Linked DNA regions of Homo sapiens: region 2 is linked to region 1. A link means that fine-mapping ties the variant in region 1 to the expression of a gene that starts in the linked region. Tissue or cell type: hippocampus. Region 1 holds a variant in brackets; the other region holds the start of a gene. All regions are shown on one strand. Distances are from middle to middle.

Evidence for each region. PIP is the estimated chance that this variant, and not a neighbour inherited with it, causes the effect.
Region 2: it holds the start of AATF, and the variant in region 1 is fine-mapped to the expression of AATF in hippocampus (GTEx, PIP above 0.99).

Annotation. Positions count from the first base shown.
Region 1 is chr17:36,231,256-36,239,360 of GRCh38, reverse strand. LOC105371747 (a long non-coding RNA gene) reads left to right here and starts at 1,554. Exons shown (of 3, transcript XR_934703.3): 1 at 1,554-1,812; 2 at 4,807-4,914. The variant G/A (reference allele first, on the strand shown) is at 4,721.
Region 2 is chr17:36,944,840-36,952,944 of GRCh38, reverse strand. AATF (apoptosis antagonizing transcription factor) reads right to left here and starts at 3,991. Exons shown (of 12, transcript NM_012138.4): 1 at 3,729-3,991; 2 at 2,540-2,731; 3 at 1-59. The coding sequence starts at 3,819.

The DNA of each region.
Region 1 (8,105 bases):
AAGTCTCGCTTTGTCACCAGGCCGGAGTGCAGTGGTATGGTCTCAGCTCACTGCAACTTCCACCTCCGAGGTTCAGGCGATCCTCCTGTCTCAGCCTCCAGATTAGCTGGGACTACAGTCATTCGCCACTGTGTCCAGCTAATTTTTTGTATTTTTATTAGAGATGGGGTCTCACCATGTTGGCCAGGATGGTCTTGATCTCTTGACCCCATGATCCAGCCACCTCAGCCTCCCAAAGTGCTAGGATTACAGGCGTGAGCCACCGCGGCTGGCCCTATACTCCCTTTTTAAATTTTTTTTTTTTTTTTTTTTGAGATGGAGGTTCACTCTGTTGCCCAGGCTGGAGTGCAATGATGTGGTCTTGGCTCACTGCAACCTCCGCCTCCCAGGTTCAAGCAATTCTTCTGCCTCAACCTCCTGAGTAGCTGGGATTACAGGTACATGCCACCACACTCGGCTGATTTTTGTATTTTTAGTAGGGATGGGGTTTCACTATGTTGGCCAGGCTGGTCTTCAACTCCTGACCTCATGATCTGCCCGCCTCAGCCTCCTAAAATGCTGGGATTACAGGTGTGAGCCACTGCACCTGGCCCTTTTTTTTTTTTTTTTTTTTTTTTGAGACAGGGACTTCCTCTGTTGCCCAGACTTGAGTGCAGTGGTATGGTCATGGCTCACCACAGCTTGGACACCAGGCTGCCTCAGCTCACTGCAACCTCTGCTTCCCGGGTTCCAGTGATTCTCGTGCCTCAGCCTCTGGAGTAACTGGGAGTACAGGTGCTCACCACCATACCTGGCTAATTCTTGTATTTTTAGTAAAGATGAGGTTTCACCATGTTGGCCAGGCTGGTCTCAAACTCCTGGCCGACATGGTGATCCACCTGCCTTGGCTTCCCAAAGTGCTTCATATTGTTAGCCCTAATTCTAGTCAAATTCCATAGCGTTTTTCTTCTTTATTTTTATTTTTTTATTTTTGAGATGGAGTCTTGATCTGTCCCCCAGGCTGGAGTGCAGTGGTGTGATCTCGGATCACTGCAGCCTCCACCTCCTGGGTTCAAGCAAATCTCTGCCTCTGCCTCCTGAGTAGCTGGGATTACAGACACCTGCCACCATGCCCAGCAAATTTTTGTATTTTTAGTAGACACAGGATTTCATCATCTTGGCCAGGCTGGTCTTGAACTCCTGACCTTGTGATCCACCCACCTCGGCCTCCCAAAGTTCTGGGATTACAGGCGTGAGCCACCGTGCCCGGCCTGTATTAGATATTTTTAAGTCAGTTTCCTAAGACAATTAAATATTTCAGGTAGTTGGGACTTTTCTTTTTTTGGTTTGTTTTATTTTGCTTAATTTAACCATTTTAAATATGATTCTCTGGGAATTTTTTCTTCAAAATATAGAATATGTGTGCATTAGTTTGCTAGGCTTGCTGCAACAAAGTACCACAAACTGGGTGGCTTAGACAACAGAAATTTATTATCTCATAGATCTGGAGACTAGAAGTTCTAGATCACGTTGTTAGAGTTGGTTTCTTCGACAACTGTGAGAAACCTTATGTTCCATGCCTCTCCCCTGGCTTCTGGTGGTTTGCTGGTCATCTTTGGCATACTTTGGCTTGTAGGTGCATCACCTGGATCTCTGCCTTCATGTTCACATGGTGTTCTACCTGTGTGCGTATCTGTGGCCAAATTTCCCCTTTTTATAAGGATACCAGGCATATTGGATTAGGGTTCCTCTCTACTCCAGTAGGACCTCATCTTCACTAATTACATCTGCAATAACCCTTTCCAAATAAGGTCACATTCTGAGGAACTAGAGGTTAGAGTTTCAACATACGAAATTTTCTGGGGGGTGAGTAAGGGACACGATTCAATCCATAACAATATGTTTATGAGTAAATGAGTTAGTGTGTTATTGTCTTTCTGCCACCTCAGAATCTGAGAAAACACAGTTTCTTTTTCCATTCCTTGGGCTGTAGGTGGAGAAGGAGGAGGATGATGATGGTGATTATTTTTTGGTCATGCCCCATAATGTGACCCACTTTAAAAAACAACAAACAATTGTAAGGAGGAGAACTGTCATACACCTACTGCCCAGCTTAAAAATAATTAGATCATCTTCTTTAAACATAACTGTCATCCCATCATCACACCTAAGAAGTTGACAGTTTCCCCAGTTTTTTTTTTTTCTCTTTTTTTTTTGAGATAGGGTCTTTCTCTGTTGCCCAGGCTGGAGTGCAGTGGCATGATAGTGGCTCATGGCAGCCTCAGCTTCCCAGGCTCAAGGGATCCTCCCATATAGCTGGGACCACAGGGGTGCATCACCACATCCAATTTTTTGAATTTTTCTAGAGATGAGGTCTCCCTGTGTTGCCCCACCTAATTTTTTTGTTGTTGTTGTTCCATTCTTTTTTTTCCTCCTGTTAATCAAGGTCTGTATGTAGTTTGGTTACTATGTCTCTTAGGTCTCTTTTCCTTTATAGATTCCCCTCGTGATTTACTGAAGAAACGGGGTCATTTGTCCTGTAGAATTCTCAAATTTTGATTTTGCTGATATTATCCCCAGAGTGTCATTGACCATGTTCATCTGTTCCCCAAATTTCCAAAAACTGGTAGTTAAATTTAGGTGGTTGATCTGATTCAGATTACACTCTCAGTATCGCATATGCTTTGATCAGGAGGCATAATGTGTACTTGTGTGTGCGTATGTGTGTTTTTTTAGTGATGTTAGTGGTCACTGCCTGTGTCAGCATTTCACTACCAGGGTAATTTGGCAATGTCTGGAGACACACTGTCACAGCTTGGGAGAGGGAATGCTATAGGTACCTTCAGGGGTAAGAGTCAGCACAGCACAGCCCCCTAACGCAAAGTATTAATAGGCCTAAAATGTCAGTAGCCCTGAGGTTGAGAAACTCTGGCCTACTTTTGTAGTTTCATCAGGTGTTTGTGAAATGGTTTTATTCTAACTGTTATTTCTTCTTTCTTTGTTAGCTGGAATTCTTTCATAAAGAGAAACTCTTTGATCAGTTAGTTACCCAAGGTACAGTTCATACAGAAAAGGCAGGATGTATGTTTGATTCTTTCCTAGTTTTCAAAATAATGAATTAGTTTCCTAGCATCTTCCAAAATTGACCAATGAACTTTGTGTGTGTGTTTTTTTCTTTTTTAGTATATTATGAACTTACACGTTTTAACATATTTGTGTTTCCTTTCATCGCAGTTATTTTTATTTTATTTTTATTTATTCATTTATTGTTTTCAGGCAGGGTCTTAACTCTGTCACCCAAGCTGTAGTGCAGTGGTATAATCGCTGCCCACTGCAGGCTTGACATCCCGACCTCCAGCAATCCTCCCACCTCACCCTCTTGAGTAGCTGGGACCACAGGTACACCACCATGCCCAGCTAATTTTTGTGTTTCTGGTAGAGACGGGGTTTTGCCGTGTTCACCAGGCTGGTCTTCAAATCCTGAGCTCAAAAGCAATCCACCTGCCTCTGCCTCCCAAAGTGTTGGGATGATAGGCGTGAGCCACCGCACCTAGCAGTTATTTTTATTGGTGCTCGTTTTTTCCCTTCGTTGAATGCTGGGTGCAGTGAATGCTGGGTGCATCTTCATGTTGGGTTCTGAGTCCTTTTGACATGAGCACATTGTCTGGTGTTGTACGAGAGAGCAAAATAAGGAAACTGGTGTTCTATGCTTATCTTGTACATTTTCCCCACACTTGGAATCAGCCATTCCTCCAGGGAGTGCAGGTTCACAGTCTGGGCTCTAAGAGAATTATAAGGTCAATGTGGTCATCATCTTTTAGTATTAAGTCAGATATTCTAAATTATTATTTACTTCTTACATTTGGCCCAAGAGTTTAACCAGATATTTTGGGAAAGAGAGAAGGAATTAAATAAATAAATCTCATGGTTAGAACTGAAGTGATAACTATACTTTCACAAGGAAATATAACTTATAACCCATGCGGAATAGAAAATTATTTTTGCTCCTTTAGATTTCTGAAGGAATGAAATGAGCTGTGAGAAGAAACTTTAACTGGAGCATCTTACCAGTATTATTCATGTTTTAACTCTGCTTCAGTAGTTTTTCAGGTTTATTACAAACCTGCAGTAGCCAACTGAATTAATTATCTCTAAACAGGGATTTAGCCAGTGGACTAGGCACACTGAAGCTTTGTGAGAGGGGAAATTGATATTCACATTTTTTCCAGCTTGTTTTGAGCTCGATATATTCTTTTCTTTTTTTTTTTTTAATTGAGACAGACTCTCGCACTGTCACCTGGGCTGGTGTGCAGTGGCACGATCTCTGCTTGCGGCAACCTCTGCCTCCCAGGTTCAAGCAATTCTCCTGCCTCAGCCTCCCGAGTAGCTAGGATTACAGGCGCCCGCCACCACGCCCGGCTGATGTTTTGTAGTTTTAGTAGAGACGGGGTTTCGCTTTATTGGCCAGGCTGGTCTTGAACTCCTGACCTCAGGATCTGCCTGCCTCAGCCTCCCAAAGTGCTGGGATTACAGGCCTGAGCCATCATGCCCAGTCAATATATTCACATTTTTAATAGGAATAACAGTATACTAAAATCTTTTTTAGTGCATGTTTAAGATTTGAAGATGTAATTTGACTCAGTACTTTCCACTTGCATTTTTTTCTTCCACTTGCATTTCTCCACTATTAGAAAAGTGCCTGCTAAGACTATTCTAATACTTTATTATAGTTAACCCCTGC[G/A]AAAAGAGCTCCCAGAGCTTACAGTGCATTTAATTGATGTCATATGGACTATTCATTATTTTCTAAATTATTTTGTTTGTATAAAGCAATCTGAAGAGGATGTAAGTCAGTTTGATTCCAAGTTTACACGTCAGACACCTGTCGACAGCCCAGATGACGCAACTCTCAGTGAAAGTGCCAATCAGGTCTTTTTGGTAAGTGAAAGAATTTCCATGTAGTCATGGGAAATTTTAAGTATGAGGATGGGCTCTTCGATAAGAAAATTCAGTTTGCTTGCTTTGCAGCTCATGTAGGTAACCTGGCCCACTTTTTTTTTTAAATAAGCCATGCTCTTATAACTTATTGATACCTATAAAATTGATTTTCATAATCCAACATTTTATTTTAGCAATTAGAGTGGGAATGTACAATTCTTTGGAGAGTATGATTCCCTTTTTTGGTTGGGCCACAGACTTAAAATGATGTTTGGCTTAGCATCTCAACCAAAAATTAAGTCATAGCAGTGGGAGAGAAAAACCTCACTAACTACATGTATTTTATTCCTGAAACAGCTATAGATTTTTGGTACCTTTTTTTTTTTTTTTTTTGAGACAGGGTCTCACCTTGTAGCCCAGGCTGGGTGTAGGGTGTAGTGGTGTGATCACAGTTCACTACAGCCTTGACCTCCCAGGCTCAAGTGATCCACCCATTTCAGCCTCGTGAGTACCTGGACTACAGGTGTGTGCCCCATCCAGCTAATTTTTTATTTTTTTGTAGAGACAGAGTCTCACTATTTTACTCCTGGACTCAAGCTATCTTCCCACCTCGGCTTCCCAAAGTGCCAAAATTATAGGCATGAGCCATCATTCCTGGCCCTATTTTTGGTACTCTTAACATAAGTAGGGGATTTTTTTTTTTTTTTGAGACTGAGTCTCACTCTGTCGTCAGGCTGGGGTGCAGTGGCGCGATCTCAGCTCACTGCAACCTCTGCCTCCTGGGTTCAAGTGATTGTCCTGCCTCAGCCTCCTGAGTAGCTGGGACTACAGGCGCCTGCCACCACGCCCAGTTAATTTTTGTATTTTTAGTAGAGACAGGGCTTCACCATGTTGGCCAGGATGGTCTTGGTTTCTTGACCTCATGATCCACCCGCCTTGGCCTCCCAAAGTGCTGGGATTACAGGCATGAGCCACTGCGCCCGGCCAAGTAGGGGATTTTTTAAACCTAATTGTGAATATTTGACATCAAATTATATTGGTTCATATGTAATAATGAATTCTCATTGTAGAAATATCCGTATAGATTTATAGCTTGTCTCCTCAGAAAAGTGAAGGTTTTAGATGTTGGCCAACAGAAATGATGGATTTATATCAGATGACCATCAATGCATACATACTATTTTGCTTAAATACCATATATGCTTGTTGATTTTATTACTGTACTTATATGTCACATGAACATCTTTCTCATTTTGTATCCTTTTTTTTCTTTTGTCGTTCCTGTATGGACTACCTCTAGGGAGAATAGAATATGGGGAAAACAATTGTTTGGGAGTGGTTTTTTCCCTCTTTTTGAGTTCACTGGATTTGTCACTAACTTAATTCTATGCTTTTCTTCCCCACACTGCTCACTATATAACACAAGTAGTGTTGTATCTTATGGGATGGGAAATAAGCTCTAAAGTTAGCATGGAGTTGGGACATCGTGGCTCACGCCTATAACCTTGAGGTCAGGAGTTCGAGACCAGCCTGGCCCACATGGTGAAACCCCATCTCTACCAAAAATACAAAAATTAGCCGGGTGTGGTGGCATGTACCTGTGGTACCAACTACTTGGGAGGCTGAGGCAGGAGAATGACTTGAACCCGAGAGGCAGAGGTTGCAGGAGCCAAGATCGTGCCACTGCACTCCAGCCTGGCCAATAGAGTGAGTGAGACTCTGTATAAAAAAAAATTAGTTAAAAAAATAAAGTTAGCATGGAATGCAAAAGTTGTGTATAGTACAGTATGGTTTCAAGTAAACAACACTGAATAGTAATAATCCTATAAATTAGTAATATAGAGCACGTAGGCAAAATATAATCTTACAGTATTAATTACATAAGAGATAAAAGATGAGTGAGTGCATGCATGTTTTTAAATTCAAGTTTGATGTGTGCATGATCAAAGTTACGGCATCTCTGTTAGTAAAATCTTAGGTTCACTCAGGGAAGTGGGCATGGATCACTTTAATTTTGGCTTTTTTTTTCTCTTTCATGTACTACTGATGTGGAATTTATACCTTTGATTTAACATAGAGACCTTTTCATCAATTGAACATTGCAGAATTTCAACTTATGTGACAGTTTCCCCCCACAAAATAGAAGCATTTTATTTAGCTACCAAGAAATCCTAAGTTGTGGTGGTAAATGTGAGATATTGACGCTTTCATTGCCAGTTAAAGTATTGTTGAGCTTTTCATAATTACTTAAATTGGCTATAACTGATGAACAGAGCAACTCATTTGTTAGGTTGTAGCCAGAATTCTGTACATAAAGTGGGTCTCTTGAAACATTAGTAAAAACAAAAATAGGCCAGGTACAGTGGCTCATGCCTGTAATCCCAGCACTTTGGGAGGCTGAAGTGGGTGGATCACAAGGTCAGGAGTTCTAGAACAGCCTGGCCAATATGGTGAAACCCCATCTCTACTAAAAATACAAATATTAGCCAAGTGCGGTGGCACACGCCTGTAATTCCATCTACTCGGGAGGCTGAGGCAGGAGAATCACTTGAAACCAGGAGGTGGCAGTTGCAGTGAGCCAAGATCGTGCCAGTGCATTCCAGCCTGGGCAACAGAGCAAGGCTCTATCTCAAAAAAAAAAAAAAATTCCGCATACATAAGAAGAGAATATGCATTAAAAAAATCAGCAGAGCCTCACATTCCAGGATTTTCTACACAAGAAACCATTCCTAAAATATGTGCTTGGAATTACTAGGGTTTCTCTTGCAAACATTTTAATAACACCTCATTCGTTTTTTTTATTATAATATTTATTTAAGCAAAATTTCTTTTTTTAATTTTATTATTTTATTATTATTACACTTTAAGTTGTAGGGTACATGTGCACAATGTGCAGGTTAGTTACATATGTATACATGTGCCATGCTGGTGTGCTGCACCCATTAACTCGTCATTTAGCATTAGGTATATCTCCTAATGCTATCCCTCCCCCCTCCCCACACCCCGCAACAGTCCCCAGAGTGTGATGTTCCCCTTCCTGTGTCCATGTGTTCTCATTGTTCAATTCCCACCTATGAGTGAGAACATGCGGTAACACCTCATTCTTTAGGGGTGTGGTTATATGTGTCATGTTATTAGATCTTTACAGCAACTCTCCTGGGTAAAGCGGTTATTACTAGGTCATTTTATAG
Region 2 (8,105 bases), 710 kb before region 1:
CAGACCCAGTCCCTCTGAATCTTCATCTCCAGACCCTTCCTCATCAGATATTTCCTCATCTACAAAGAAGAGAGGGAAGAAAGAGAAAAATGGGTATTACCTGGAGAAAATACCAAGCCATAGACTTCATTTCAACTTAAGCACTGTGGCATCAGGGGGAAAATCTCTTACTGCACTCAATTCAACAATATATTTATTACACATCTACAATCTCCAAAATGCTAAGGGAGAAGCAAAGATGAATAGAACACGGGTCCTACCCTAACAAAAGGAGCTAGTGGGAAAGACAGACTCACAACATTACAACTCAAGGAAGCATCAGAAGTGCTTTGACAAAATTTCAATAACCCAGAAGAGTGAGAAATTTTAACTGTGGGGCAAGTGAATTTAAGCTAATCTCTAAGGAAGAGCTAGCATTTGCTCTGGCCCTTGAAGAACAGTAAGATTTCAACTGGTGTTAGAGAATTACCAGTTTTCCCAAACCTGATCTGAAAAAATGTACAATCTATCACATCCGTCTGCCCTATTTACTAAATACTTATTAAGCACTCATTATGAGCCAGGGGCTAAGGAAAGGCAAATAGAATTTAATACTTGCTGGGAGGAGTTCATGGTCTGGTGGGAGTGGTAGATATGCATGCCAATAATTATATTACAAGGTCATTAGTACACAGTGTATGGAGATGGAACCACCTAACTCTCCTGGAAAGGTGGGGGATGGTATCATGTGGAGAAGGAGACATTATAATTTTACTTATGAAGCATAAGGCAACAGCTCATAGATAATGAAGGGAAAACGCACTGGAGTGCAGGATGCACAAGGAAGTGATGGGAGATGAGACTAATCAGGAAAGGTCTCGTCTTTCATGAGGACTCTGAACTTGATCCTATAGTAGACAGAGTGCTAGTTAAGGCTCTTTGTTTGACTTATGCTTAGAGTATCATCTGATATGTAGAGGTTTTTACAGTTTATCCAATCTGTTCCATGGTAGAACATAAAAGCCCCATGTGTTTCAAGTATGATTCTAAGATAGAGGGACCAGTTTCCAAAAACTTTCTTCAATAAAATAAAGATTTTAGGAAAGCGTGACAGGTCTTCAGCGCTTCTTTAAAAAGGTATATATAAACTTAAGACACAAAGCTGCCAAAAATATAAATACAAAAACTAAGTGCCAAAACAGTAAACAGAAATTATTATTTAAATTCTTTGAATGTACGCCATTTCTCAGATTAAGAAACATTCATACAGAGTTTACTAGAGTGTACATCTTGGAGTCAGACAGCCTACATTTGAATCATGTTTCTTCCACTTACTAACTATATGACCTTGAGCAAACTTATGTAACCAATTTGCCCCTCGATTTCCTTATCTGTAAAATGGGGCTAAGTAGTAATAACTTCCTGCGCAATTGGGAGGATTAAATTAGGTGACACATGTAGTGATAATGGTGATAATTTTTTATAAAAATCTGTCTAATTCCAGGTAATTTTATAATTTTTTTTTTGAGGACTTACTGTGTCCCAGGCTCTTAGAACTTAAATTATAGAGCTAAACTCAGTGCCTGACGCATGGTAAGAACTCAATAAATATTATCATATTTGTCTCATGATTGGTCCCTTTATCAGTCTCTAGGCAAAGAATATGAAATGAGCTTATCAGGAGCTCCCAGAACTACATCAAGGACTAAATCATAGATATCATAACCTAAATGATAGTTCCTTTTATATTATCTGTGGATTCTCAACATGACACCCCTGACCTTTCTAAAGGAAAACAAATGACATTCTCCCAATAATCACCATATCTAGCCCCTTCTTCCACTCTGAGAAATTTACAATTCTTTAAAACTATAAGCGCACAGACTCCTAACTCTTTTGCAGGGAAGAGAAGGATTATGTGATTTTTTAGAATGGCAAAAAATGAGTTTCACAAATAACTAATATCACACAGTGCTTCAATGCAAGTCCTGGAAAACCAAAGGTCAGGGGTCACAATTCAAGGATAACATGTTCATCAGACACAGTGGTTTTTCAGCTCATAACCCTCTCCAGTAGCCAAAATGCACTGCCTTCTCTGTCACTCCACTGTAGGGTGAGCCATTAGTCCGAACATAAGGAGTATAGCAACTTAATCACTCTGGGCTTTAGATTCCTTATGAAGTGAAATGAAGTAACCTCTAAGACCCTTTCTAATACCAAATCAATGGTCTCTCCTAAGATAACAGATAGGGGTGCCTGACCAACATGGACAAACCCCGTCTCTACTAAAAATACAAAATTAGCCGGGCGTGGTGGTGCATGCCTGTAATCCCAGCTACTCGGGAGGCTGAGGCAGGAGCCTCGCTTGAACTCCAGAGGTGGAGGTTGCGGTGAGCCGAGATGGCGCCATCACACTCCAGCCTGGGCAACAAGAGCCAAACTCTGTCTCAAAAAAAAGATCCGCAGACTACTCTTGCAAAGATCATGGGGGATGACCGGAGGATTTTAACCCTGAAAAAATTAGGGAAGAGAAGAGTTCCATTCAAAAATGTCTACTCACCAGACGATCCTGGCAGAGTCTGCTCCCAATGGTCTTCATTCCATGCTTTTCTAGAGGTGGTTTTGCCGCAATACCTTTTGTCCGTGTCCAAGAGGGAGGCTGATGCCAGTTTTCTAATGCTACCCACTACTAGGAAATCACCTTCCCCATCTTCCCCTTCATCAAACCTGTCAATCACCCTGGCAGCAGTGGCTGTCGGGGGAGAGGGAAAAGTAAACAGAATCTCCAGGTTAGCAGAAACTTTAACGGGAACCCTGGTCGACCCATTTATCTCATAGTTGAACGTCCTTTACGAAATCCCCACCAACTTCCAGGAATAGGAAATTCACTCTCTCCCAAAGTAGAACACTGTCTTACTGCTGTTTCTAAACAGAAAGTTGACTCCTGGCATCTACTAGTGGGATCTATTTCTATGACTTGGATCCTATCAAACTAGTTGAATTCCTCTTCAATGTGTGACAGTCGCTCCAATATCTTAAATCAGTCATCACGTTCTCCCCTCACTCTGTCCCATTCTTTGGGGAGTTTTCTTTGCTTATTCTGGCTAAACAGTCCCGAGTTTCTTCAACTGATCTTCCTAAGATACGGTTCAGCACTCGCATTTATCCCTCCTTATTATCCCTTTCTCACACTTCCGACTCAAGTCTAAAGCGGGATTACTCCCAGCTAGACTCTGAACATCAGCTTACAGAACAGGAGTCTCAGTCGTCAGCCACTGAACAAGTGTCTTGAGACTTCAAGAGACTTAAACAGCACCAGAAAATCCTTCCATCAGTCTCCAACTTAGTTTTGAAGGGCAACCTGAATTAAAAACATGCGACTTTCTTCTCCTCCTTTCTAACGCAATACCAGAAAGGGCATCCTCAAAGCTAACTTCCAACTTGCTAGCAGACTCTCTGGCTCCCTCCAACAGGCCTGGAGCAAGTAAACCTGAAGACCAGCTCCTCTCGGCCTGAGCCCTCGATCTGTTCCGCCCATCCAGCCGAGCACCAAGTTTCGAGTGCGTGTGAAAAGAAGCCGAAGCCCTCCTCCCGAGGCCGGGACCACCCTCGCGGGAGGCGACGTTCCTCTGCGCCAAGCGAAGGAGCGCAGGCCCGGCGGCCTCGCGCACGCCCCTCCCACGCCGCCCCCTTGCCCCACAGGGCCTGGCCCACCGCTCCGCACGTGGCCTGCCCCAGTCCGGCCTCACCTTCCTCGGGGTCCGCTTCAGGGTCCGCCTCGCTTGGTCGCGGGTTCAACAACTGTTCCAGTTGCAGCGCCAGGGGCTGCGGCCCCGCCATCGTCACCAGCTCCCGGTCCACTCCGCTTCGCGCACGTAAATGTGCGGCCCAACCCCCGGCCCCGAAGCTCCTTCCCTGCCGGATCCTCTCGCCTTGATCCGATTCCCCGACTCCGCCAGAGACCGCGCGGAGGCCACCCCACAGCTCTGGACCGGCCACTTCCGGGAGGCGCGCGGGAGGGGGCGGGGCCTGCGCGTCACTGCGGGCGTTGCTAGCATGAAGGCGGAAGCGCGCAGAAGGTTGAAGGGATTGGAGCCGTATGGGCGCGTGTGCGCGTGCGCGTGCGAGTGCGCGGGAAGGGGCGGTGCGGAAGCGCGCCAAGGCACGTGACCGCTTCTGTCGCTGAGATGCGATTGCGATGCGCGCGGCCAGTGTCCCCTTGTACAAAATATGCCTCGAGATTTGTGCGAGATTCGCTTAGGAATAAAGCATAGCGTAGCCGTGGCCCACGGTGGCTGATTTGGGAAGGAGGAGGGAGTAGGGCTTAAGCTGCTCGAATCGCGGGTGCGCACTCGGGCACGCAGAGACTGGGACCCAAAGCAGGTTTGTCATTTCGCAATTTATAGTAGTCTGAGGCCGGGCACACGCCTCCCGCCCTTCAGCGGCCAGGATTTGGGAATCCTATGTCAGGGATATGCACGTGTAAGTGTGTGGCGGACTGCTGGCGTCTTTCTTAATGGGAATACTTAGGAATCGCTGTGGCTAAAGATAGTTTCAGTAGCGTCTCTAAGTACCCTTGCCTGAGCAAGGGAAAGGGGGTGGGGTGTGGATTACTCCACTGCATACCCCTCGGTATTGATTATCTTTGCTGTTCAGAGATGAGGGCATGCTCAGGCAGCTTAAGCAGGTGCACAAATGCAGAAAAATACAGGTCTACCGTTAGAGGGACAGACTCAAAATATAAAGACTTAATAGTATAAATGTAATTGCACCCCGCACACGGAAAGACACAATCGCTTTACATCCTCTTTCCTTCATCAAGCATTCCCTGACTGCCCACTATGTGGCAGGCACTGCTAGATAAGATACAAGATAAGTAAGTTGGATTCTCCCCCCCACGGTAATCAGCCTAGGAGGGTAGACAAACATGTAAACAGAAACTGCAATAAGGGATGATAAGTGTGACTACAAAGTGGTCTATTCTTATGGTATCTGTTGGAGGTTGCCTGTAGAGACCTAGACCCCTCTAAACAGAATCTGCCTCAAAAGGATCCAGAAAAGAGATGTTAGTGGTGCACTGTGGCAGTGCCCCTTGGGTACAGCCCGGGCCAGTTGGATCCCACAGCTGAACAACTGGGGAACCCTCAGCTCTCTACTGTCTCCCATGAAAACCAAGGGAAGAGAGGATCTCTGACTTTCACAATCTTCATATGTCCTCAGGGCCAAGAGCAATAAGAGGACACCACTTTAGTGGAGCCTGTTCCATGTCCCTGTAAAGTGGCCCTTGAAGAATGAAGACAACCAGGGCTGCAGAGGGGAAGGAGAACCTGTCTGAGGGTAAACCCCCTCAGACATGGAAGGAAAAGAATGCCAGGCTAGGCAGGGCACTCAGGAGAAGAAAACGGCTTTTTACCATCCATAAGAGAGCTTAGCCTAAGAGAACAGTTTTTCGTTTATCCTCTATAATTGCAGTCTTGTGCCTGTGTCCGGGCCTCCCAAGCAAAAGTGTGTTCCTTGCTCCTTGACAAGGTGCCATGGGGCTTCAAAGGACAAAAATGTTTCTCCCACCCCACATTTAAGAAACTACCTCCTGCAATCCTATCCCCTTGCTATGTTGGGTACTTACAATGCTTAGAAACCTGGCCTTTGAGGTAAAGAGAAGGAAGAAAAGAGAAAGGGAGGTGAGTCACTGCAGAGACCACCTCTAAGCTGTCATGCAAACAGGACACTGCTGGTCAATTTGGGGGCTGTGCTGGGCAAACACTCAGCAGAAAATGCCATAGACCTGTTTACTTACTCTCCCTTCTCTGTCCTGGTCCCTACTGACTTGGGAAGCCATTTTAGCAAGGAATCAAGACCGTTCTACTGTCACACACATCCCAGGGCCCCCCAAAATGTTTGCCTGACCTTATACTGAAGGTAGAAAGAGGACTCCAGGAGTGGAGGGAAGAGGAAGTAATTCTAGGAATTAAGATGCAACTGAGAGTAGTTGAGGCAAGGGACAGGGGAGCAAATTCTCAAATACTCCCTCTGGGGGCCTCTCCCTACCTGCATTCCAGTGTCTTGAGATGGTGGGGGAAGGGCTTATTGATGGGGTAGGGATGGAGATGGAGAGTGGACTGTGGCGAGGAGTTTCAACCTCTGACTGATGTAGAGATGAGAGCAGATGAGAGGAACAGGGAGAGGAGAATAAGGGTGAGCAGTTCCCTAACAGAATGGCCTTCTCCAGAGAAGGCGGAGGGGCGCCCAGTCCACAATCCCTCTCCCTGCCCTCCAAGGGCTGCAAAGTGGCAGGCGATTAGGCACAGCAGAGGATGGGCAAGGGGTGACACTTTCCAATTGTCCCAAACAACTGTCTGCTCACTTGACAAGGAGTTTCAAGAGTTTGGGAAAACCAAGTTCCCACTTGCCTCTCTTCAGATGCTGTCCACCCTCAGGTGCCAGCCCTGGCAATGCCTATCCTGGCTCTCCACAGGTAATACTTCCCCAAGTGCCTCACCTAGAGCAGCTTACCAGCGGCAGCCAGCCCGGAGAAGTTGGGTGGGTGAGCTTCAGCTCCCTCGCCAGAGCAGATGGTGGCTCCCTGCTGCTGGAACCCTGAAGGCAGGTGGCGAGAGGCACAGAGGTGGTGGCTTTAAGATGGCCACAGGGAGAAACCAGGCTGCCCTCCCAGGCGAGAGGGGACTGCAGTGGCGCTTCCCTCCTGCTGCGCCTCCTGCGGGAGCTCCGCCTAGGTATGGTGCCGCACGTCCCCGCACCTCGGGGCCAGAGGTGGGCGGCACAGCACTGATGGGAAGGAGAACAGGCCCTGACATTTCCAGGCCTCCTCCTTGGGGCCTTCGGCTCCAAATTTGACTGCTGAGCGTTGCCACCTGTTCGGGTTTTCGCCAGGATTCTGAATCCCGCGACGAGGGGAGAGACTGCGCCACAACCACGTTGTTAGAAGAATCGAATCCACATCGTGTGCCCAACTCGAAAACGCTTCTTATCAAATACCCCGATTGCACAATAAAGCTGCTAAATAATTCAGCAGCCTTGATAGGAAAATGCAGCTTCCCAGTGAGCGCAGTTCATTTAAATGAATGTCTTTAAAGGGGGCTAGGGAGTAGAGGCTATAATGAATAAGTTAGCTAGGATTTAATGTGTATAAATGCTAAAAAGGTAAAAACAAGCCGATCCAGTGATTGCATATAAAGCAAATAAAGAAATGTGCTGCATGCAGAGGCTGGGAGTTTCAAAAGTCTCCTCTGTATTTCATACATTTTTATTTCTGAAAGAACACTGCCAGATTCCTCCCGGATAGCCTCCTCCCCCATTAGATAAGCCATCATATGGATGCAGTGAAATATTGCTTATTTTAAAGCCTTCTCTGCAGGAAAGATAAACTTGGCTGTGTCTTAACAAAATTTGAAAACAGCACTGGAAATTATATACCATTTAATGTCAAACCTTTGACTTTTTAAATAAGGAAATAAATAATCCAGAGTGAAATCTAGGTGATATGGAAAAGAAATCCTGGAACTCTAATAGCATCTGATACTGAAACACACACACATCCACAAGAATATTTCATAGTAGATAAAATATTCAAATTTCTTCCAAGTCTAATGAAGGACTGGAAAGAATCGAGCTACTTTTAGAACCTTTTGAGTTGAAATTTGATTTTGATATTAGTTATTTTTGTTCATCTTTCAGAGAAACTTAATATGTATCTTGTGCCAGGCAAAATAGTTTTCCTTCTGGGGAACTTCAAAGGTAACAAATACTATAAAACAACAATTTCATATCAGTTCTGTGAAAGGGATTAAAGTATTTCATTTCTAGCTGTACTATACATTCATTTTACATTATCTTTCAAACCACCAAATTAGAAAGCCTTTACATTATCTTTCAAACTACCAAATTAGAAAGCCGGATTATCTATAGGAAATGAAATGAAACTGAAAAGGACCACCTCTAACTATGTATTACAAGTATCTGATACAAGCCCAGTTTTGCATGTGCAGGGAGAGTGAAAGAGGGAATGCCTTGGATCTTATGCCTAATCACAGACCTGGACCACTCATTTTTTAGCCATGGATTTGATTTCTATTTCAAATTCTATATTAACTTATCAGCAAACATCT